Homo sapiens: one gene and its partners. The protein of the gene in region 5 interacts with the protein of the main gene of each other region in a pairwise test. Each region holds a gene or a part of one and is shown on either strand. Other genes may lie near its edges. The genes, in order: CLTA, SPART, GLS2, SF3B3, HIP1, LHX5 and GABPB1.

What was found.
Region 1: the proteins of HIP1 (region 5) and CLTA interact in binary tests that used the Homo sapiens proteins (3 or more experiments, as listed by UniProt).
Region 2: the proteins of HIP1 (region 5) and SPART interact in binary tests that used the Homo sapiens proteins (3 or more experiments, as listed by UniProt).
Region 3: the proteins of HIP1 (region 5) and GLS2 interact in binary tests that used the Homo sapiens proteins (3 or more experiments, as listed by UniProt).
Region 4: the proteins of HIP1 (region 5) and SF3B3 interact in binary tests that used the Homo sapiens proteins (3 or more experiments, as listed by UniProt).
Region 6: the proteins of HIP1 (region 5) and LHX5 interact in binary tests that used the Homo sapiens proteins (3 or more experiments, as listed by UniProt).
Region 7: the proteins of HIP1 (region 5) and GABPB1 interact in binary tests that used the Homo sapiens proteins (3 or more experiments, as listed by UniProt).

The regions. Positions count from the first base shown.
Region 1 is NC_000009.12:36,193,921-36,197,420, forward strand, and holds part of CLTA (clathrin light chain A), read left to right. Parts: intron 1-3,500. UniProt on the Homo sapiens protein: Clathrin is the major protein of the polyhedral coat of coated pits and vesicles.
Region 2 is NC_000013.11:36,329,395-36,332,894, reverse strand, and holds part of SPART (spartin), read left to right. Parts: intron 1-1,298; coding exon 1,299-1,496; intron 1,497-3,377; coding exon 3,378-3,500. UniProt on the Homo sapiens protein: Lipophagy receptor that plays an important role in lipid droplet (LD) turnover in motor neurons.
Region 3 is NC_000012.12:56,478,162-56,481,661, reverse strand, and holds part of GLS2 (glutaminase liver isoform, mitochondrial isoform 1 precursor), read left to right. Parts: intron 1-1,274; coding exon 1,275-1,374; intron 1,375-1,760; coding exon 1,761-1,882; intron 1,883-1,953; exon of another isoform or gene 1,954-2,480; coding exon 2,481-2,610; exon of another isoform or gene 2,611-3,399; coding exon 3,400-3,479; exon of another isoform or gene 3,480-3,500.
Region 4 is NC_000016.10:70,558,316-70,561,815, reverse strand, and holds part of SF3B3 (splicing factor 3B subunit 3), read right to left. Parts: intron 1,348-3,500; coding exon 1,225-1,347; intron 187-1,224; coding exon 32-186; intron 1-31. UniProt on the Homo sapiens protein: Component of the 17S U2 SnRNP complex of the spliceosome, a large ribonucleoprotein complex that removes introns from transcribed pre-mRNAs.
Region 5 is NC_000007.14:75,550,442-75,553,941, reverse strand, and holds part of HIP1 (huntingtin-interacting protein 1), read left to right. Parts: intron 1-352; coding exon 353-489; intron 490-3,500. UniProt on the Homo sapiens protein: Plays a role in clathrin-mediated endocytosis and trafficking. Involved in regulating AMPA receptor trafficking in the central nervous system in an NMDA-dependent manner. Regulates presynaptic nerve terminal activity.
Region 6 is NC_000012.12:113,465,372-113,468,871, forward strand, and holds part of LHX5 (LIM/homeobox protein Lhx5), read right to left. Parts: intron 3,034-3,500; coding exon 2,756-3,033; intron 2,051-2,755; coding exon 1,885-2,050; intron 1-1,884. UniProt on the Homo sapiens protein: Plays an essential role in the regulation of neuronal differentiation and migration during development of the central nervous system.
Region 7 is NC_000015.10:50,345,199-50,348,698, reverse strand, and holds part of GABPB1 (GA-binding protein subunit beta-1 isoform beta 2), read left to right. Parts: intron 1-2,303; exon of another isoform or gene 2,304-2,327; intron 2,328-3,500.

The DNA of each region.
Region 1 (3,500 bases), on a different chromosome or scaffold from region 5:
GAGGCAGCACAAGTGGAGCTGTTGAAAAGCTCTCAATCATGAGGGCTGAGTCGGGGAAGAGAACAGGAGAGACAAGCCACAGAGAGAGTACAGCAGTAAGGCACTATTATGGTGTTTTGTTGTTTTTGAGACAGTCGCTCTGTCACCCAGGCTGGAGTGCAGTGGTGCGATCTCGGTTCACTGCAACCTCCGCCTCCTGGGTTCAAGCAGTTATCCTGCCTCAGCCTCCCGAGTAGCTGGGATTACAGGCGCCCACCACCGTGCCCAGCTAACTTTTTGTATTTTTAGTAGAGACGGGGTTTCACCATGTTGGCCAGACTGGTCTGAAACTCCTGACCTCAGGTGAGCCACCCGCCTTGGCCTCCCAAAGTGCTGGAATTACAGGTGTGAACCACCGCACCCGGTGACAAGTTATTTCTTGTAGGAGAAGAAAGAGACATGGGTGAATTAAAGGGAAGCTTTCTGGAGAAGTAATTTTATTGGTAGCAGTGGTGGAGGGAAGTTTAGGGAAATCTCATGCATGATAGTTAATTGTACTGCACATTTGCTGTATACCAGGTACACTTTCAGATCCCAGCAGTAGCTCCACAGGTTAAGTGGTAGTGTCATATTTCAGATGAGAATGGATCGGTGTGGAAGTTGAGCAGTGTCACTAAGGTAGCAAGGTAATAAATGGCTCAAGTGCAGCTTCAAACGTAGGTCTGCTTGACTTCAAATGTTTCTGGAATGTGGAAAGTTGAAAGTGGGTTTGGGACAGTCTTTCACTTTTGAAAACTGGCCCTTTTTCTGTCTGGAGTTCCTGAAAGGCCCTAGAAAGTTTCCTTCTGAAGCATCGTGTTGCTTAGTTTAGTTGTTGTAGTAAGTCAAGGCCCTACATGTCCTTTCTGCATGTTTCCACAGCAACAGACGATCCCTTGGCTTGAGCCAGTTGATTCTTGTAAGAATGTTAGTGCAGTAATACAGTAACTAATAAAGAGGAAAGCAGATGCCAGTGGGTCTGGAGGAGCCTTCAGACAGCATGTGATTTTTAAGGAGATGTGGGATGAGGATTGCTTCTTGTTTTGTATATGGAGTAGTGATCAAAGTCTCTCATATTCCAGCCCAGGGCTGGACTATATTAGTGGATAGTTGGTATGTCAATTGTACTATATTAACCATAATGTAGGCCTGGCCAGACTAGCCACTGTAGGATCTAGGATTTAAAACTATCTCACTCTTCTGTCTTACACAAAAATAAATTCCAGGTGGATTAAAGAGAGACATTTAAAAAGTAAAAGAAGAAAAGTGAGTATTTGTCTATCTCATAATAGGAAAGGCCTTCAGCATAAAAGCAGATACAGAAATCATGAAGAAAAAGTCGATCATGTCTACATACACAAATTAAGTTGTTCCAAGTGTTAAATACCATAAACCAAATCAAAAGAGAAACTAGGGAAAATATTTGACTATTAGAGAGCAAATACTTAGAGATCAAAAAATAGCAGGAAAATAGGCAAACTCAGAAAATTCAGTAAAGAAGAAAATCAGGTGTCGGGTATGTGATTACCTCACTGGAAATAAGATTGGCACAACAAAGCCACCATGAGTTTGTTTTTTTTTTCCATTATCAAATTAGCAAAAATTTTAAAACATGATCAAGCACAGTCCCTAGTATCAGGGAAGGTCTAAGAAATGGGGCACTTGTGCTGCTAGTAGTAATATAAACTGGTAGACTAATAGGAACAAGTGGGTAGAATTTTAGAAGTCTTTGAAATACATATCCTGGGCCAGGTGCGGTGGCTCACGCCTGAAATCCCAGCACTTTCGGAGGCTGAAGTGGGCGGATCACCTGAGGTCAGGAGTTTGAGACCAGCCTGACCAACATAGTGAAACCTCGTCTCTACTAAAAAATACAAAAATTAGCCGGGCATGGTGGCACGTGCCTGTAATCCCAGCTATTCGGGAGGCTGAGGCAGGAGAATCACTTGAACCTGGGAGGCGGAGGTTGCAGCAAGCCGAGATCGCGCCAGTGTACTCTAGCCTGGCCAACAGCGTGAGACTCCGTCTCAAAAAAAATAAAAAAATACATATCCTGGCTGGGCGCAGTGGCTCATGCCTGTAATCCCAGCACTTTGGGAGGCTGAGGTGGGTGGATCGTCTGAGGTCAGGAGTTCGAGACCATCCTGGCCAACGTGGTGAAACCCCCGTCTCTACTAAAACTACAAAAAAAATTAGGTGGGCATGATAGCTCACGCCTGTAGTCCCAGCTACTCAGGAGGCTGAGGCAAGAGAATCACTTGAACAACCCAGGAGGTGGAGGTTGCAGTGAGCCAAGATTGCACCACTGTACTCTAGCCTGGGCAACAGAGCAAGACTCTCTCTCAAAAAAAAATAAAATACATATCCTGTGATCCAGCAATTCCTTTTTTTTCTTTCTTTTTTCTTTTTTTTTTTTTTTATTTTTTGAGATGGAGTCTCGCTCCGTCACCCAGGCTGGAGTGCAGTGGCGCGATCTTGGCTCACTGCAACCTCTGCCTCCCGAGTTCAAGCAATTCTCCTCTTTCAGCCTCCTGAGTAGCTGGGATTACAGGCTCATGCCACCACCCTGGCTAATTTTTGTATTTTTAGTATATGGAGGTGGGTTTCACCATGTTGGCCAGGCAGGTCTTGAACTCCTGACCTCGAGTGATCCTCCCACCTTGGCCTCTCAAAGTGCTGGGATTATAGGTGTGAGCCACCGCGCCCAGCTGTAACCCAGCAATTCTACACCAAGAAATTTATTACAGAGGCGAAATTGAATATGCTTCCCCCATGCTTTCACTAGTTTGATAAACTTCATATTTCCAAAACTTTATAGAGTGCTTAAAAAACTACATAGGTAGGTGGCACATGCCTTAAAGTGGTAAAAGGCCACTGACAAACTATAAGAAACTCATTTTTGTACTGACATATAGGAGTAAAAGTCAACTAGGAAAATTAAGAAAAATATGAGAGGCCAGGCATGGTGGCTCATGCCTGTAATCCAATACTTTGGGAGACCGAGGCGGGTGGATCGCTTGAGTCCAGGAAATCGATAGCAGCCTGGGCAGCATGGCGAAACCCCCTTCCTACAAAAAAATAGAAAAATTATCCAGGCGTGGTGGCGCATGCCTGCAATCCCAGCTCCTGTGGGGACTGAGGTGGGAGGTTCGCTTGAGCCCAAAAGGTCGAGGCTACAGTAAGCCATGATTGGGCCACTTTGCTCCAGCCTGGGCGACAGAGCAAGACTGTCTCAAAGATGAAGCTGCAGGTCTCTGCTCACTATGGGTGATTCCAGGCCACACTTTTTTTTTTCCCTCATGCAGAATTTTCATAGAGAAACACTGTTCTCTTTCTGCTAGTCTTCCATTTGTTACCACTGTAAAATAGAAAACAGAAAATAAAATCAAAAGCTTTTGGACTTGGGAGCTTAAGGACAGATGTGTACACATTTTGGTGAAATTTGTATATAAGCACATCTTGGTTTTATTTGTTGTATATAG
Region 2 (3,500 bases), on a different chromosome or scaffold from region 5:
CTTAATAATAACTGAAATTAAGGGAAATATGTATTTTTCTCATACATATTAAAATAAATAACTACTCAAATGTTAAAAGTTTGTGGGTAAGACTGTTTTGATGTTGAGCACAGTTATATTTTGGTTTCTCAAAGAATGTATTGCATTAGAAATAAATTAGGCAGCCAGGATGTGAGCTTATGTCTGTGTATGTACTGGCAAGCCGACCTCCGCAGATGACATTGCAGGAGAGCTTTTGTTATTTTGCTTTTAATTTCACAATAGATAGATAATCCATAAACATTAACTTAATCTATTCTGTTATGTCAGGTTCTCTTGGGTTTAGTACAAAAAATTATTCCATGTTGTGAGTGAGTGCTGAATTTCTTATTTATTCATTTATTTTTTCTTTGAGACAGAGTCTTGCTGTGTTGCCCAGGCTGGAGTGCAGTGGCACAATCTTGGCTCACTGCAACTTCCACCTCCCAGGTTCAGGTGATTCCCCTGCCTCAGCCTCCCAAGGAGCTGGAGCTAGGATTACAGGCATGCACTACCACCCCCAGCTAATTTTTGTAGTTTTAGTAGAGATGGGGGTTTCACCATGTTGTCCAGGCAGGTCTTGAACTCCTGACCTCAAATAATCCCCCCACCTCTCCTTGGCCTCCCAGAGTGTTGGGATTATAGGTGTGAGCCACTGTGCCCGGCCTGTGAGTGCTGGGTTTCTAATTAAAATACTTGTTCAGCTTCTCTGGTCCAGACTATATGTGTTAAAATCCAAGCTCCACTTTTTAGTTGTTGGTTCTGGGCGACTTAATTGACCTCTCTGTGCCTCAATTTTCTTGTACATAAAATGACAATAATAGTAACTGATTTCATAGGATTGTTAGGAGGATTAAATCAGTAAATACTATTATTTCAGTAAATATTTCAAGTAAATAATATCTGAAAATAGTTTATTTACCACAAAAGGAATATCTGATTTCAATAACGAAAACCTTAATTTACTTTGATTATTATTTATTTAAAGCTGGAGTCATTATTGGTTAACACTAGGCTAGTTAAGGCCATCAGCTTTAAGATTGTATAATTAGTGGAGCCATGGCACATTTAGCACAGTCCTTATTGCAGAAAGATCAGACTAGCAAATGATTAATTTTCTTGGGGATTTGTTGATGTTGATGTTTCTTAAAGCCTTTTAAAATATGTTTCCAACTTTGAAGTGTTTATTTTCTAGTATAACAATTTTATTAAAACATAAATGAAAATCTAGTTTCATTTATTTATATGTATATTTTTTTTCTTCTAATGAATCCTTTCAGGTTTGTGACTGGTTATATCCTCTAGTTCCTGATAGATCTCCGGTTCTGAAATGTACTGCGGGAGCCTACATGTTTCCTGATACAATGCTACAAGCAGCAGGATGCTTTGTGGGGGTCGTCCTGTCCTCTGAGTTACCAGAGGATGATAGAGAGCTCTTTGAGGATCTGTTAAGGCAAATGTCTGACCTTCGGCTCCAGGTAACTTGTGTGATCATCTTTAGGGTGAAAAAAATCTACTTTAACATAAGCACTTCAGCTTTTAGAGAAATTGTAATAACCTCTACTGTAATCAAGGTTAGGAGACTGACAGTTCACCATTTGTTTGTGTGTTCACAACTACATGCTTGGAATTTGCTGTAATAGTGGTTAAGATTGTGAGCTCTAGAGTCAAATTGCCTGTATATGAATTCAAACTCTTCCACTTAATGACCGTTTAGCTCAGCTGTTCCTGATCTTCTCTATACTTTAATTTACTTATAAAATGGGGATAATAACAGTGTCCACTTCATTGGGCTGTGGTGAAAATTAAAAATTAATACATTAAGCACTTATATCAGAACGAGTAGTTATGCTCTGTGAATGTTAGCTATTGTTTTCACCACTGTTTTATTGCTCAGCTGGAAAAGTGTACTAATGGGTCTAAATGGTGACATGAAGATAATTTTAGCTTTAGTAGATAGGTTATGTTGGACATTTTAAGGGGTATGGTTGGCATTCTGAGGAAGAAACAGGCTTTGGTTGAGATAATTATCTTTGTTCTTGTGGTAAATGAAGGCCAAATAAAAAAATAAAAAGAAAATATGATTTAAAATATGATCATCCTGGAACTTTCCTTATTTGGCATGTTTCCTCTGCCCACATGCGTACCTGTAGAAATAGAGTATTTCTGTTTAACAGGGAACTTGAATAGAGTATTATGGAGAGACTTTCTTTATATATTGTTGTAGCAAGAGGGAAAAAGTATTTTTGATTATGAATATTGACAGTCATCAGGGGTTGAATGAGGTGGGCATTATAATAGTATAATCTTTTATTCTCTCCTTCAATCAGCAGATACTTGGAATTCATTATTTAACCAGTTACTGTGTTAAGTGATGGGATGGGCAAAGTATGAGAACAGGAGACCACGAAGGTGTGGGGGATGTGTGTGTGTGTGTGTGTGTGTGTATGAAAATATAAAATCAGCCCCTGTTCACCCGAGAATGACCTACCTGGTGGTCAACAAACCAATACTTTAGCATAGCAGCAATTATTTAACAAAATACATGATCAGCATACAGAAGTGTGTAGCCTCATTGTACTTGTGAGGAGGAATTCACAAAGGCAGGAATATGGTCAAATGAAGGAGTTCATCTTCACTTCACTGTTTACTGAGTGAAATGATGCTCTTAAGTATTCACAGACCTAATGTGGAACTATTTCTCCCTTCACCCCTACGTTAACTGGACCTGTATTACTGGGCTTTAGGAAAGAAACTAAGCAGACTTTTAGGTTGTATGTTTATTTTCTGTCTTCAATTTAATTTTTTGGTATTTGTATGTTATTTTTAGCTTGCTTTACTGTCCCAGAACTTCAACTGTAAACATAAGCTAGTTACTAGCTATAATTTTGACTGGTTTTTACTCTTAAGCATTCATTCAGCAAAGTGTATATTGTGCAGAAAATTAAAAAATAAACCTTCCAATAATGCATAATGAAATGGACATGAGTTTTGTTAATTGCCTTTAAATTCACTTTCTCTTGTACATGTTAACTAAAATTTATTCATTAATTAAATTTAAATGTAGCTGCATCTGATTCAAAGATAACTTATACCAACAACTGCTATAAGTTGTCTTTTACACGTTGTCTTTTGAAACTTACTTAGGCATATGCTATGAACCAAAGAACTCAGAGGTTTGGGGTTTGGTGATGAAACAAAAGAGAATCGTAGAGAAAAAAGCAAAAGTAGTTGTTACTGATAGACTGCCAAACTGACATTCAAACAAGTATGTCATTTGAGCATGGTGTAATATAGCTGGCAGAAAGCCATCTAAGAAAAATTCTGATTAGAGTTAAGCTTAAACCTTTATTCTCTAGGCCAACTGGAACAGAGCAGAAGAAGAAAATGAATTCCAAATCCCTGGAAGAACTAGACCCTCCTCTGACCAACTAAAAGAAGCCTCTGGCACTGATGTGAAACAGTTGGACCAAGGCAATAAG
Region 3 (3,500 bases), on a different chromosome or scaffold from region 5:
GCCTCAGCCTCCCAAAGTGCTGGGATTACAGGTGTGAGTCACCATGCCCAGCCTACTTCTTATTTCAAGTGCTTATTCTGTAGGCACTGGGGAGCTACCAAACGTTTTTGAGTAGAGAAATTACATTTGAGTTTAGAAAGATCACTGGCACATTTTGACTGGGCGTGGTGGCTCATACCTGTAATCCCAGCACTTTGGGAGACTGAGGCAGGCGGATCACGAGGTAAGGCGTTCGAGACCAGCCTGACCGAAATGGTGAAACCCCGTCTCTACTAAAAATACAAAAAAATTAGCCAGGCGTGGTGGTGCACACCTGTAATCCCAGCTACTCAGGAGGCTGAGGCAGGAGAATCGCTTGAACCCAGGAGGCGGAGGTTGCAGTGAGCCGAGATCGCGCCATTGCGCTCCAGCCTGGGCGACAGAACCAGACTCCGTCTCAAAAAAAAAAAAAAAAAAAAAAAAGATCACTGGCACATTTTAGAAGGTGGATTGAGGCAACAAGAGCAAAACTCTGTCTCAAAAAAAAAAAAGATGGATTGAAAGTCAAGAGAGTGTAGTGGCAATTAGGTAATAGGGAATAAGGAGCTGATGATAAACATGATTTATTGAACATTTACTTTGTGTCAGGCAGTTTTTCACAGAATATTATCTTAAGCCTCACATCACCCAGGTGAAGTAGACATTACTACCCTTGTATTACAGATAGGAAGCAAGTTCAGCAATATTAAGCGACCTGCTCAAGATCACACAGCTATTAAGGGGCAAACTCTGGTCTACTACACCATGCTGGCACAGGGAAAAGGAGGAGAGGGTGGATTTGAGACATTATGAGGCAGATTCATCCAATGTTGGTGACCAACTAAGCATGGACTTAAGGTGTGGCAACTATCAAAATGATGCCACATTTCCAGCTTGGCACCCAGGTGGGTGGTAATGCTGTTAACCCAGGTGGGAAACAAGAGGAGAAGAAGAGGGAAGGAAGTGAGATGACTCAGGTTTGGACATATTTTTCAGTGCTTGTGGGGAACCTATAGGTGGAAGTGTGAGAAGGGAGCTAAAAATAAAGATCTGAAGGTCAGGAGTAAAAGCTAGAGAAAAGATCTACAACTTCTTAGGACAGACATGAAAGTTAGATTTATAGGGATAGATCAGATGGCTTAAGGAGGAGGCATAGAATGAGGACACTCACCTACTTATAAGCCCATGTTGCAGAAGGAGGAGCAGGTAGCAGTTCTCAGGCCCCACTTTCCTCCCCATTCTCTGCCCCCAAACAGTGATTCATCAGAAAGTGGCATGCTGTCCCGCCTGGGTGATTTGCTCTTTTACACTATTGCTGAAGGACAGGAACGAATCCCTATCCACAAGTTCACCACTGTAAGTTGCCCTCTACCTGTTCAGGATCCTAATTCCTTAAGATCTCTGAAAAGTGGGGAAAGGAGGGTATGACAAGTGCAGGGCAGCTAATGGGTTGCTACATGAGGGTGAAGCATACAGATGGATGAGAATCCAGATGTCTAGGCTGACAAGACAAGCCCATCCCTGCCCCAGGGTCAGAAGATTAAACCCTCTGGAAAAAGGACAGGAAACCCTTGTTAGCCTTCAGAGCTACTCCATCCCCTCCTTTCTTATTCTCCAAACCCATTTGTTCCACCTATTGTAGTGGTTGGGGTTCAGCTAATTGGGTATCCAGTGGGAAAGATTATGAGGAGTACATCACTGTCCTTGTAGCTGACCTTTCTGGCCTCTTCTTTCCTCTAAAGGCACTAAAGGCCACTGGACTGCAGACATCAGATCCTCGGCTCCGAGACTGCATGAGCGAGATGCACCGCGTGGTCCAAGAGTCCAGTAGTGGTGGCCTCTTGGACCGAGATCTCTTCCGAAAGTGAGGGCCCCAGAAACAAGGGCACTGCTCTCTGAAAACTGTCCTGTGGACATAGACTCTCAGAGCAGGGAGGAATTTGGGAATTGTATAGTTCAATTCCTCATTTTATTTTATTACTTATTACATAAGTTATACATGAATACTCATCATAAGAGTTCAAACAATATAGAAATACATGTTCTCCTTTCCCTCCCTACTCAATCCCTGTCCTCTTTTCCCAGAAGTAAATATTAGCAGATTAGTGGGTATCTTCTAGATAATGTCCTATGTACTGACATACATACATGAATATATATAAATATACTTTTATGATTTAGGATTTTTTAAATATCAAGGTAACATACATACATATTATTCTGGTATTTATTTTTTTTCTCATATCCCAAGACATAGTGTCTTTCCACATCATTAAAACCCCTCATTTTAGAGGTACGGAAACTAAGACCTAGAAAGGTAAACTGATTTGCCAAAGGTAACAGAGCTGTTGATCCCAAACCTGAAGACCACTCAACCTTCTTTATTCCCAATTTCCGTGGCTCCAGAGTGAGTCCCAGCTGCATTTCTCTAGCCCCCTAATCCAATCGTGTCTGGGATCCAGGTGTGTGAGCAGCAACATTGTGCTCCTGACCCAGGCATTCCGAAAGAAGTTTGTCATTCCTGATTTTGAGGAGTTCACGGGCCATGTGGATCGCATCTTTGAGGATGTCAAAGAGCTCACTGGAGGCAAAGTGAGAGTCAGGGGACTAAGGGAGGGGTCAGGGACCTGGGCCAGATTTTTTTTTTTTTTTTTTTTCCTGAGACAGAGTTTTGCTCTGTCACCCGGGCTGGAGTGCAATGGTGCAATCTCAGCTCACTGCAACCTCCACCTCCCAGGTTCAAGCGATTCTCCTGTCTCAGCCTCCCGAGTAGCTGGCATACACCACCATGCCCGACTAATTTTTGTATTTTTAGTAGAGATGGGGTTTTGCCATATTGGCCAGGCTGGTCTCGAACTCCTGATCTCAAGTGATCCACCCACCTCGGCCTCCCAAAGTGCTGGGATTACAGGCATGAGCCACCACACCTAGATATACCTCGCTTCTCAGAGATTTCCTGGGGCTGGGAGTCCTATGAATGAGAGATGAGAAGCAGAACTTCTGTAAATGGTGACATGGCTTCATGTGTTTCTATACACGATTCCTAGAGCAGGTGAGGGAATCAAGATCGAATAGAGCCTTCAAAGGGATTTATAGGGTAACTGAGCCTAAGAACCAAAAGGGGAAGGTTGCCTCAGAATTCTCCTTTTTTAACTTCCATTGGCTTTACTGCTATCTCTACAGGATTGCGGATACACAAAGATATGGCCTTCTAGGACTTAAGGCTCGGGCATTTCTGGGAGCAACAGGCAGGAGGGAACCCCTCTGCCCTATAGAAGACAGAATTTTAGCTTTTATCTAAAAGATTCTCTTGACCCTCAACCTCAACTCTGTTCCTCTTCTCCACATCCATCTCCCTTTTCTCTACCCACTCATGTCCAGGTGGCAGCCTACATCCCTCAGCTGGCCAAGTCAAACCCAGACCTGTGGGGTGTCTCCCTGTGCACTGTGGATGGTCAACGGTGAGATGCTGGGCAAGAGGA
Region 4 (3,500 bases), on a different chromosome or scaffold from region 5:
CTGCTGAGCTTCAAACATGAGACTCACTCACCGTAGGGTGTTGGTGGAGATGGCCACAATGCCCTCGGGACACTGTTCCGAGGCAAAACCCGATGCAAATTCCAGTGTCTCGTAAGACAGTGGGGTGAGATGGAAGCGAGATTGGTAAGAATAGCTCAACCATGAGCGGCTTGACATGGCCAATACCTGAGGGGAAAAAAAAAACCCAGCTCCAATAAGGTTTGGGAAAAAATACAAATATGGTATAAGCTGACCAAAAGCCCTATCCCCAAATTTCAGTCTGCAGAGTATCCTAAGATATTCTAGAAATATAACAGGCTATCTTAAGAAAAAGAGGGCTAGAGAGAGGCACTATGGCTTAGCATATGTGAAAAGCATGGGCTACGAGCCATATGATCTAGACTCACCATTTCATCTCTCTAAGCCTGCTTCCACGTGTGTAAAATGAAAACAGTACCACAAGGCTGGACAGCTGCAAGAATTAAATGGAATGAAGGCCAGGTGCGGTGGCTCATGCCTGTAATCCCAGCACTTTGGGAGGCCACGGCAGGCGGATCACCTGAAGTCAGGAGTTCGAGGCCAACCTGGCCAACATAGTGAAACCTCATCTCTACTAAAAATACAAAAATTAGCTGGGCGTGGTGGCATGCGCCTGTAATCCCAGCTAATCGGGAGGCTGAGGAAAGACAATTGGTTGAACCCAGGAGGCGGAGGTTGCAGTGAGCCAAGCTTGCACCACTACATTCCAGCCTGGGCGACAGAGTGAGACTCCATCTCAAAAAAAAAAACAACAAAAAACAGAATTAAATGGAATCAATTAGCACAGTGCCCAGAAACACTAACATTCTTAACTACAAAGGACACAATGTTTCCCAGTCTCTTTCACATTAGGTAGTAAACGTGACACTGATCTAAGACTGGGATAAAACCTGAGAATTCTCATGGCTAGTGGTGTCCTAGAGGGGAGGTTTCCAGCCCTATTTGACCAGCCAGAGGGCTAAAGGGATCGATATCTCTACCCAGCTATAACCAAATCATGACATGGTGCGATGGAGCCCCAGTGAGGAAGCTCTAGGTTAGGAAAACTCAGGACTTCTCACATGAAGGAAACCAATCAAGATGGAGTGGCAAATTAGTGACAGTGAAGCTTACAGCAAAGATTGTTCTCAGATGGTGCCACTAAAATCCCAAAGATGTTGCCTGTCCCCAACCTTCATTACTTACTGCCTCCTGGCCTTGCATTCGGACTCGGAAGAGCTTCACAGGACGGGACCCCAGGTACCGAGTGCGAGTATCAGACAAATCCCCAGTGACAGGGTCCAAGACAGTCCTCAGCAGCACACCGTTCTAATCAAAAGGAGAGGAGCAGGTGAAGCCTGATGGAAGCTTATCAGCTATGATGGGAAAACCTCTCCCTTGGGTACTTCACATAAGAAATTAGAGCAGATAGAAAGAAATGACTTGGGTGTTTAAAAAAGATCCTAATAATCCGATAGCCATTCATTTCATTCTCTCAGTAAATCACTTAATCATCCAAAGTTATGGAGCATCTACTAAGTAAATACACACTTATTTTTCACTATATCTTCTTAATATTTCTTTTTACCAAGTATATTAAATCCTTCTTCACTACTGTATATTTCAAATAAATAATTAAATAACCACAAAGACCATGGTCCCTAAACAGCATTTCCTCTTAAAGGAACAAGGTTCCTAAAAGGAATGACTAGTTTGGGGCAGGGGCAAGAATGTTCCAGACACATGTGGGGATACTTTATTGTGCAACAAGGCAAGGAAACCCCTACAAATAGTGGGGTCATGTTAAAAGGACAAAAGAACTAACTTCAAATAGAAATTCCCACTTTTCTAGAATGAGTCAATTTACCACCCCCCCGCACCCCTCAAAAAAAAAGAAGCCAGGTGAGGTGGCTCACATCTGTAATCACAGCACTGTGGAAGCCAAGGAAGGACGACTGCTTGAGGCCAAGAGCTAAAGACCAACCTGGCCAACATAGCGAGACTCTGTCTCTGTTTAAAAAAAAAAAAAGGAGTTTTCAGCACAAATGTATAAAAATCCACAAGTTTATGATGTTACTCTATTTTTTTAAATTTTTATTTATTTATTTATTGAGACAGGTTCTCACTCTGTCACCCAGGCTGGAGTACAGTGCCACAATCTTGGCTCACTGCAGCCTCCACCTCCCAGGCTCAAGCAATCCTCCCACTTCAGCTTCCCAAGTAGCTGGGACTACAGGCATGAGCCACCATTCCCAACTATTTTTTGTATTTTTGGTGGAAATGAGGTTTCGCCATGTTGCCCAGGCTAGTCTCGAACTCCTGAGCTCAAGCAATCCACCCACCTCAGCCTCGCAAAGCGCTGGGATTACAGGTGTGAGCCACAGCACCTGACCAATGTTACTCTAAAAAACAGCAAAAAACCCACTTTACTGGGCCCCACTGAAAGGAGTGCTGTGGCCCTCACTCCTTACTCTGAAAACAGGTGAACAATGGGAAAAAAATTATTTATCCTTTTCCTGTATGAACCGTACTTATAGTAAGCAAAGAAATGATGCGAATTTTGTCTTTAGAATTCCAACTAATTAAATCCAAAAAGAAATAAATCATTTTCCAACCACTAATGAAAGAATGAACCTAGGCAATGTGTGTAATAGCTGTAAGTAAAGGGTTGACGGGAACTTTAACACAGATACAGACAAACATCCCAACATCACTGTGAGTGGGACAACCAGACACTACACTCCTCCTGACGTGATGCAACAGGAGTAAACAGCACCACCTATTAAGTATTCCTGTCCCCCTCCCCCAATAATTAAATCTGAATCTAACCAACTTCTTCTTCTGCAATATCCGATACTATAGCTACCCCAAGCCACATGTGGCTAGTCAGAACTGAGACAGGACCAGGCATGGTGTCTCACACCTGTAATCCCAGCCCTTTGGGAGGCCAAGGCGGGTGGATCGCTTGAGCTCAGGAGTTCAAGACCAGCCTGAGCAACATGGCAAAACCCCATCTCTACTAGAAACAAGAAAAATTAGCCGGGCGTAGTGGTGCACACCATAAACCCAGCTACTCAGGAGGCTGAGGCATGAGAATCGCTTGAACCCAGGAGGCAGAGGCTGCAGTGAGCTGAGATCACACCACTGCACTCCAGCCTGGGCAACAGAGCAAGACTCTGTGTCAAGGAAGAAATTTTTTTTAAATAAAGACAAATAAAATTTTAAAGAGAACTAAGACTGCTAAGTGTAAAGTGCCAATACCAGATTTCAGACTTGGTTTAAAAAAGAGAGAAAAAAAGGTGAAATAGCTCAGCAATTTTTATATTAACTACATGTTAGAATGATTTCAGATATACAGAGTTAATAAAACATTAAAACTGGCCAGGCACGGTGGTTCATGCCTGCATTCCCACCAGCACTTTTGGAGGCCAATGTAGGAGGACCACTTGAGGCCAGGAGTTCAAGACCAGTCTGAGCAACAC
Region 5 (3,500 bases):
AAAACCCCATCTCTACTAAAGATACAAAAACGATGGGCCAGATGCAATGGTTCACGCCTGTAATCGCCGTAACACTTTGGGAGGACGAGGTGGGCAGATCACCTGAGGTCAGGAGTTCGAGACCAGCCTGGCCAACATGGCGAAACCCCGTCTCTACTAAAAATACAAAAATTAGCCGGGCATGGTGGCGCACCCGTAATCCCAGCTACTTGGGAGGCCGAGGCAGGAGAATCGCTTGAACTCAGGAGGCGGAGTTTGCAGTGAGCCGAGATGGCGCCACTGCACTCCAGCCTGGGCAACAAGAGCGAGACTCCATCTCAAAAAAAAAGTGTCTATTGCCTTGTATCTCCAGCACTGACCGAGGCCTGTAAGCAGTATGGCAGGGAAACCCTCGCCTACCTGGCCTCCCTGGAGGAAGAGGGAAGCCTTGAGAATGCCGACAGCACAGCCATGAGGAACTGCCTGAGCAAGATCAAGGCCATCGGCGAGGTACTTGGAGTAGTATCATTGAGGAGCATTGTTATTCTTCTGGGTGTGCGTGCTGGTGAATGGCCAGGGAATCGGTGATGTTCTGAGCTAGTTCTTTCTGCACTTAGAACTTGATTCTAGAAAGAGATTGTTAAAATTGGAAAATCTGGCCGGGTGCAGTGATTTATGCGTGTAATCCCAGCACTTTGGGAGGCCGAGTCAGGAGGATCACTTGAGGCTAGACGGGATGGCTCACGCCTGTAATCCCAGCACTTTGGGAGGCTGAGGTGGGCAGATCACTTGAGGTCAAGAGCTAGAGACCAGCCTGGCCAACAGGGTGAAACCCTGTCTCTACTAAAAATACAAAAATCAACCCAGCATAGTGGTGCATGCCTATAATCCCAGGTACTGGGAGGTGGAGTCAAGAGAATTGCTTGAACCCAGGAGGTGGAGGTTGCAGTGCACCGAGATCATGCCATTGCACTCCAGCCTGGGCATAAGAGTGAGATCTATCTCGAAAAAAAAAAGGATCACTTGATCCCAGAAGTTTGAGACAGGCCTAGGCAACAAAATGAGACCCTGTCTCTTTAAAAATTAAAAAAAAAAAAATTTAAAAAGGAAAAACCTCCTGAAGGACTTTCCAGCTATATTTAATTCACTGGCTGTTAGCTGAGAATCTACTATGTTGTCATCATTACACTAGGCAATATCAAAGAAGTATAGGCAGCTCCCCTGTCTCTGAGGATTTTTATCTAGGTGGGCAGGTAATACCCAAAATGGAAATAACACTGTGTTCATTCATTTACTAAAGATGTAGTGCCGAGCATGGTGGCTCACACCTGTAATCCCTGCACTTTGGGAGGCCGAGGCAGGAGGATCACTTGAGGCCAGGAGTTCAATATCAGCCTAGGCAACATAGTGAGACCCTGTCTCTACAAAATAAAATTTTTTTTTTAATTAGACAGGTGTGATGTCACGCACCTGTAGTCCCAGCTACTCGGGAGGCTGAGGCAGGAGGATCGCTTGAGCCCAGGATTTGGAGGCCACAGTGAGCTATGATTGTGCCACTGCACTCCAGCCTAGGCAACAGAGTGAGACCCTGCCTCTGCTATAAATAAATATGTCCTGTATACCAGAAATTGGGTTAAGTATATATAGGGACAGAGAAGACATGGACTCTATGGAAAAGAAAAATAAGAAAACCATTTCTATGCAGTACAGTTTTTTTTCATTTTTTCCCCAGTGTTATGAATTGGAATATATTGGTTAAGATACAAGGATAGGGCCAGGCACGGTGGCTCACGCCTGTAATCCCAACATTTTGGGAGGCCGAGGCAGGTGGATCACCTGAGGTCAGGAGTTCTAGACCAGCCTGGCCAACATGGCAAAACCCCATCTCTACTAAAAGTACAAAAAATTAGCCAGGCGTGATGGTAGGCGCCTGTAATCCCAGCTACTTAGGAGGCTGAGGCAGGAGAATCACTTGAACCTGGGAGGCTGAGGTTGCAGTGAGCTAAGATCGTGCCTTTGCACTCCAACCTGGGCAACAGGAGCGAAACTCCACTCAAAAAATAAATAAAAAATAAAAGCCATGAGGATAGACTGTCTAATTGGAGTTCCAGAAGAAGATAATAAAAAGACCACATCCAGCCAAGGTGGGTGGATCAATTGAGGCCAGGAATTTGAGACCAGCCTGGGCAACTTAGTGGCGCCCTGTCTCTACAACAAATTTAAAAATTGGCCGGGTGTGATGGTGAGCACTTTTGGTCCCAGCTACTCAGGAGGCTGAGGCAGGAGGATCACCTAAGCCTGGGAGCTCAAGACTGCAGTGAACCGTGTACTCTGCAGTGAATTGCAGAGTGTACTCTGCAGAGTGGTTCACCTGCAGTGAACCACTGTACTCCAGCCTGGGTGAGAGAGTAAGACCCTGTCTCTAAAAAGAAAAAATAAAAAGATCAGGGCCAGGTGTGGTGGCTCACGCCTGTAATCCCAGCACTTTGGGAGGCTGAGGTGGGTGGATCACTTGAGGCCAGGAGTTTGAGACCAGCCTGGCCAATATAGTGAAACTCCATCTCTATTAAAAATACAAAATTAGCCAGTTGTGGTGGCTAATTTTGTAATCCCAGCACATACCTGTAATCCCAGCTACTTGAGAGGCTGAGGCAGGATAATCCTTTGAGCCTGGGAGGCGGAGGCTGCAGTGAGCCGAGATTGCACCACTGCACTCCAGCCTGGGCGACAGAGTGAGACACTGCCTCAAAAAAAAAAAAAAAAAAAAAAAAAATTATCATCTACATCTTTGCCTCCCTAAATAATAGAGTTAGTTTCACATGATATAGACTACAGGTAAATGGAGTCCTACTGTATATATTCTTCTACAACTGGCTTTTTCACTCCACATTCTGTGAGATTAATCCAAGAAGATAAATTCATTTTCACTGCTCTCTCATTATCTATTGTGTGAATATCGCTTAATTCATCCGTCTGTTCTCTTGGTGATGGACACTTGGGTTATTTCCAGTTTGGGTTGTTATTAATTTGCCCCTATGATCATATATGCACACATGTCAGTTTCTCTAGAGTATATACATAGAATCAGAATTACTAGGTATTAGGATGAATCTCACACATAGAATGTTGAGTGAAAAATCAAGTCATGGAAAAATATATACAGTAGGATTCCTTTTATATAAAGACTCAAACATTCAAACTTAATAGGGATGCATCTATGTGGAATTAAAAAATAATAATAATAAGACAGGCCAGGCATAGTGGCACATGTCTGAAAATCCCAGCACTTTGGGAGGCCGAAGCGGGAGGATCACTTGAGGCCAGGAGTTTGATACAGCCTGGGCTACAAAGCAAGACTCTGACTCTACAAAAAAGTTTAAAAGTTAGCAGAGCCTAGTGGTGTGTGCCCGTTGTCCCAGCTACTCAGGAGGCTGAGGCAGGGAGGATCACTTGAGCCCAGGAGTGGGAGGCTGCAGTGAGCTATGATCGCACCACTGCACTCTAGCCTGGGCAACAGGCTT
Region 6 (3,500 bases), on a different chromosome or scaffold from region 5:
GGCGGCCGGGCCGGAGGTAATTGGAACAAACGCCGTCTGAAAAGGGCACAAAAGCCGCAGCTGGGGCTTTGTCCGCGCTCCCACGGGGAGCCGCCGGCCCCGCCGCCCGGCCCCTTTCTCGCCCGCTGCCGGTCGCCACCGCCGGGATCTCCCAGCGCGGATTAGGCGGGGCTGCCTCGCTGGGGGCTGGGGAGTCTTCCCCACCATTACGGGGAACGAGGGGCCCCCAGTATCCAGCTCCCCACCTCATCCAGCGCGCAGGGAGAGGAGGCGGTGGGATAGGTCGGGGCGGGGGCGAAGTGGTCCTCGGGGAAACCTTGGTTAATTATCCAGGCGGGGAAAAATTCCGGGCCGGTACCGCCCCCACTACCTCGCTGCTCCGGGCCCAGATTTTGTAGGGAAAGAGGCAAATTTAGGTGGAGAGAGTCGGTGAGTGGAGACTCCGGAAGACACGCCCACCATCCGGGCTCTCCAGGGTTGGGGGTCTGTCCGGGGTTGGGGGTCTGTCCAGGGTTGGGGGGCTGTCCAGGGTTGGGCGGCTGGGGCGCTCCAGCCTGAGCCCTGCCACTGCCTGGGGTCTCTGCCCTGAAAAGCACAGCCTGGCATTTTGCCCACAATTTCTAGGGGCCCCGGTCCGGTCTCAAGGTCTAATCCCCCCTCAGGCTTCCGGATGTGCTGAGGTTAGTGATGGGGTTATCTTCCCTTCCCTTCTGCGTCTACCTGGGTGCCTAGCTCCTGCCTTGCTAACACTGCCACTGAACCCACTTTCTAAGAGAAATTGCCTCTTCCTAACCTGCGTTACAACTCAGAAGTGCAGATGCCTCTCAGACATAGACAGTCCTGGGGTCTCTCCAAATTCAGAAGCTTCAGAATAGAAGAGGAGAGGTGCTTTCTTGAGCCCTCAGCCCTGGGAAGAACAGGACAGTGAGCTTGGTGAGCTCAAGCAATGCGGCTCAGGGTAAGGAGCTGAAAAAATCGGATAGGGGGAGTTGGGATGGCTCACCAATCCAGTGTGAGGGAAGTGAGAGGAGGAAAAGCTGAGGTGGCAAGGGGACAGCTCACCCCAGGCCCAAGCCTGGTACCACCATCTGAAGCCCTTTGTAAACTGGGGCTCCTCGCTCTCTGCAGCCCCAAAGACGGTGGAAATCTGGGGTTGGCCCAACACTTGTGCCCCCAGTCTGTAGGAACCCCAGGGGTCTCGGGGCTGGAGGGTGGACTACAGTCCTGCCCAGAGCAACTGCCGGCATTTGGGCTAACACTGCCAGATGCTGTGCGCACACACCCCGCCACATGGAACAGGAGTTGCTGCCTTCGATGCTAGTGAGCAGGCGGCTTGGAATGAATCCAGACCCCCATCCCCTCCCCTCACACTACCCTCCAGCGCTCGGAATCCACCTCATGCCAAGTACACCAGGCACAGGGCGGCAGGAAGGCTGTGCGTCTGTCCGTGGGGGCCGCATGCATGTGGATTTGCCAGTACTGGCCTCAGTGTGACTGGTGGGAGTGTGCGCGTCTGTGGAGTTGTGTCTCCGTGAGTGTACCTGTGTGTGAGAGGGTGGAATTTACCTATACGTGATCGTGCGATCGTGTCTAGACGTGTGTCCCTGGAGTCTCTGAACGCAAGTGTGAGTGCACCTTGTGCCCTGCGTGGGTGAATGTGTCACTGTATCTCGTGTGTGCTTCTGTGTGCATCACTGTATGGGTGAGACCATGTATCTGATTTTGTGTCCAGGACATGTGGGTGAGTGTACATGTGTCTGTGATCGTGTGTCCAGCGAGTGGGCGATGTTCTGGAGCGGCGGAAAGCGTGCTGGCCGGGACCCTTCGCCCTCAGCTCCCGGAATAGGACAGGTGCGGAACAGCGAATCCCGGGGCGCCCCTTACCTCCGTAGTAGGTGTACGGGGTGGACCCCAACATCTCAGACTCGTCCAAGCGGCCGCCCAGCGGACGCATGCGCCGCGGACTCCGGAAGAAGGCGTGCCTCCGGGCGCCTAGGGCGCTCAGCTGTTTCATCCGGCGTTCTTTGGACCGTCGGTTCTGAAACCACACCTGGGACAGAGGAGGGGGCTGTGAACCCAGGATCAGGAGTGTCCTCTCCCCCCCTCTTCTCCCTTCCCTGACTGGGCTGCCCCTGCTGGGTCCTTGCGCCTCTTCCGCACCAGGACTCCCCCGAGGCGGGGCCGGGCCGGATTAGGCCGGGAGGGGTGGAGAGAGGCTTCGGCGAACCAGCCAAGGGTGAAGGATTTCGCGGACCCGTGGGGCGACTCATAAAGACTTGGGCTTCCTGGTCCCCGGCTCGCCCGCGGCCTGACGGCTCTATAAAGGCCTCCCTCCCGGCACGGCTCTCGCCTCGGCCCCTCGGCTCCGGAGCCAGCCTCTGGCCGTTTGTCTGCCCGCGCTTCGGCGCAGGGAGGGAGGGGGCATCGCCTGTTTCTCTGCTCGAAAGGTGGAGGTAAAGAGGGATCCCGGACCCCAGAGAGGCTTACAACCTTCCATAAGCAAGGCGGGGGGCGGAATTCAGAGAGGTAAAGTGACCCGCCCCCAAATCGCAATACCAGGAGGACAGCAGGGCTAGATGGAATCTTTCGGTTCACAGTCCCCGACCTCGGGCAAGTGCCCCACTCGGGCGCACGGTCTGCTCCCAGACCAGAACCAGGCGCGCTCGTAGCCAAGGAAGCTTGGCGGGAGACTCCTCCGAGGCTCCCGGCTCCCAGGCCAGCGGGGCTAAGGAGCTGTGCCCGCCCCGGGCCGCACCTGGATGACGCGCATGTTGAGGCCGGTCTCCTGCGCCAGCTGCTCGCGGATGTGGCGCGTGGGCTTGGGCGTGGCGGCGAAGGCAGCCTTGAGCGTCTCCAGCTGCTTGGCCTTGATGGTGGTGCGGGGGCCGCGCCGCTTGGTGCCCGAGTTCTGCTCCTCGTTCTCGTTGTTGGCCGTCTCCTTGTCCGACGAGGTCGAGTTGTCCGTCTCTTTGGGGTCGTCCTGCAGTGCGTCCTGGAGGTCCGGGGACAAACTGCGGTCCGTACAGGATGACACTGCGGGCGGACGGATCGGGAAGGGGACAGCGGCGTCAGCGACGGCCAGACGCCTCTTCAGTCCAGTGGCGGGTTCCCGCCGGCCCAAGCTACGGCCTGCCCAGGCTACGGCCAGCCCCGCTGGATTCCCTCCCAAACCTGCGACAGCCCCTCCCCCAGGGACCCGGTGCCCGCCCACTCTCTCCAGGCGGGGCTGGGCCTTTGGAGGGGCGCTCTTAAGCCCTCTCCGCGCGTCTCAGCTAGTACCTGGGTAAGGGTAGGGGGACGCGTACCCTCTGGAGAACTCCCACTTTCAAGGAGAGGGGACAAGGAGGGCACAGATTCCCTTGGGGCTTGGATCTTCCTCTCTCTTCCCTCCTCTCTCCAGACCTCAATTAATGTCCTTCCAGTGCATCAAGAAATTACCTGGAGCTCAAGTGACACATAAGGGGGAATTGTGCGCTTCCAAATTAGGGGAGGAGGGCAAC
Region 7 (3,500 bases), on a different chromosome or scaffold from region 5:
GTAGAAACGTGGTTTCACCATGTTGGTCAGGATGGTCTTGATCTCTTGACCTTGTGATCTGCCTGCCTCGGCCTCCCAAAGTGCAGCAATTACAGGTGTGAGCCACTGTGCCCAGCCAAAAAGTTTCAAAGTTTAAAAAAAAAAAAATGGCCGGGCTCAGTGTCTCATGCCTGTAATCCCAGCACTTTGGGAGGCCGAGGCGGGCGGATCACTTGAGGTCAAGAATTCGAGACCAGCCTGGCCAACATGGTGAAACGCCGTCCCTACTAAAAATACAAAAATTAGCCAGACGTGGTGTGTGCTTGTGTCTCGGCTACTCGGGAGGCCGAGGTGGGAGTATTCCTTTAGTCTGGGAGGCGGAGGTTGTAGTGAGCGGAGATTGTGCCACTGTACTGCAGCCTGGGTGACAGAGCAAGATTCTGTCTCCAAAAAAAATTTAAAAAACTACTCCTGTTGGTCCTGACTGTGATTCTATTTTAAAGAATATCTTAAACCCACTAATGCTGTGATTATATTACATAATGTAGAATCTTTTTCTGAAAGAGGCTTGAGCATTCCTATAACCCAATTAGCTTGTTTATGTCTCATTACACTTGAGGGATAAGATACTTTTACTATGGTGGTTTACTATAGTAGTGATTCTTTTTTTTTTTTTCCAGATGGAGTTTCACTCTGTCACCCAGGCTGGAGTGCAGTGGTGTGATCTAGGCTCACTGTAACCTCTGCCTCCCGGGTTCAAGTGATTCTCCCAAGTAGCTGCAGTTACAGGTGCCCGCCACCATGCCCAGCTAATTTTTGTATTTTTAGTAGAGACGGGGTTTAGCCATGTTGGCTAGGCTGGTCTCCAACTTCTGACTTCAAGTGATCTGCCCACCTTGGCCTCCCAAAGTGCTGAGATTACAGGTATAAGCCACTGCGCCCAGCCTATAGTAGTGATTCTTTAAAGGAGGTGGGTAGATGACACTGTGATACCTGTCTTTAATGCACCCATTCTGTGCATGTAGAGACTGAGGTGGTTGTAAAATTACAGTACTGAACTTTGGAATTAGGTCAATTCTTCTCATTATGATAACGGTTTTGGATGTATAGCCCCTTCTGACTCCTGGAATCCTTTATTTCCACAGCACTTCCCATGTATCCAAACAGAGGAAAAAATAATTAGTAGTATAGTGCTTGCTTCAGCAGCACATATACTAAAATTGGAACGATGCAGAGAAGATTTTCATGGTCCCTGCACAAGGATGACACATAAATTTATGATGTGTTCCATATTTATTATTATTTTTAATAATAAAAAATAAAAAAAATTTGTATGGTGTGTAAGTGAATGATCTAAAAAATTTCCTTTGTGCCCTAAATGACTTGTGTGAACTCTGTGATCTTTGCCAATGTGATTATTCTTCCTGTGTTCCTTTACTTGTTCCATTCATAGTGACCCTCAGTTTCTTGCCCTAAGTGCTATGGTCTAAAAGCTTGTGTCTCCCCATAATTCATGTTGAAATCTTAACCTCCAAGATGATGGCATTAGGAGATGGGGCCTTTGGGAGGTGATTAGCTCAGGTGGGTAGAGCCCTCAGGAGTGGGATTAGTGCTCTTAAAAAAGAGACTCCAGACCGGGTGCAGTGGGTCATGCTTGTAATCCCAGCACTTTGGGAGGCTGAGGTGGGTGGATCAGGAGGTCAGGAGTACAAGACCAGTTTGGCCAAGATGGTGAAACCCCATCTCTACTAAAAATACAAAAATTAGCCGGGCACAGTGGCAGGTGCCTGTAATCCCAGCTACTCAGGAGGTGGAGGCAGGAGAATCGCTTGAACCTGGGGGGGGCGGAGGTTGCAGTGAGCCGAGATGGCGCCACTGCACTCCAGCCTGGGCGACAGAGTGAGACTCTGTCTCAAAAAAAAAAAAAAAGACTCCAGACAGCTTGTTAGCTCTTTCTTCCACATGAGGTTACAGCAAAAAGACAGATGTCTAGAAGCTGGCCCTTACCAGATACTGAATCTGCCAGTGCCTTATTTTGGACTTCTCAGCCTCCTGGGCTGGGTGAGGTGGTTCACTACCAGCCTTGGCACCATAGTGAGACTCCCATCTCTACAAAAAAAAAAAAAAAAAAACTTTCTGTTGTTTGTAAGCTACCCAGTTTATGGTATTTTGTTACAGCAACCCAAACAGTCTGAGACGTTTAGCTTAACTCCTGTATGCACTAGATACAGTCTGCACTTTGACATCAATCACTTATTTTATATTTTACTGGACTCCTGTTGTCAGATTTTTCCACCATCGATTTCTTCTGTTTTCCCTCACAGGTCACAGCATATTTGTGGAGGAAGGTGAGTAATTATGAAGATTTCTTGGCCACTATAAATTTACGCTGAACAATTCCAAATAGGCCCCTCCTACTTCTTGGCAATCATCTTATTAATTGCATTTTTCTGTTGTCTCATATTCCTTCTTCCTCTTTAACTCTTAATAGATGCCATTTACTTCTATATAAGTGAAAAAGGAAAACAGGGTACAAGCTTGCACATTTTTTTTTCATTGTAACCATGACAAATCACTGTTCTTTCATCTTATTTTGTAAATTGAACGGAAGAAGAATCCTGCTGCCACAGTTAACTTTACCTCTCTGGTCACTTTGATTGTTATTTGCAATGTTTTTTCTTCCCTACCTTAAAATATGTACAGACTTCTCACCGGGCGTGGTGGCTCATGCCTGTAAACCCAGCACTTTGGGAGGCCAGGGCGGGTGGATCACGAGGTCAGGAGATCGAGACGATCCTGGCTAACACAGTGAAACCCCGTCTCTACTAAAAATAAAAAAAATTAGCTGGGCGTGGTGGCGAGCGCCTGTAGTTCCAGCTACTCGGGAGGCTGAGGCAGGAGAATGGCGTGTACCCGGGAGGCGGAGCTTGCAGTGAGCCGAGATCGCACCACTGCACTCCAGACTAGGCGACAGAGCGAGACTCCATCTAAAAAAAAAACAAAAAAAAATGTACAGACATCTGTACTTTGGGAGGAAAAAAAATCAATTTTGATGAACTGCTGCTACTGTTCTTTCTAGCTATCTGCTGCATTTCTCTTCATTTCAAAAATTTTAAGAATTGAATTACAATTGCTGCCGTGAGTTTTTACTTTTTTTTCGAAGACAGGGTCTCACTGTGTTGCCCAGGCTGGAGTACAATTGCAGCTCACTGCAGCCTTGACCTCCCCAGGCTCAGGTGATCCTCCTACCTCAGTTTCCCGAGTAGCTGGGACTACACGCATGTGTCACCATGCCTGGCTAATTTTTGTATTTTCCTGGTAGAGACAAGGTCTCACTGTGTTGGCCAGGCTAGTCAACTCCTGAGTTCTTTTACTACTACTTTCCTAACTTACGCAGTTTTGGAATAGCATAATTCAGATTGTCGCTTCAGAGGACATCTTTTTTGTCAATAATATTGGCTTCATCCTGACTCTTTTCAGCTAGTATATATGTGTTACTATTTCCACTGAGGCTTTTTAAT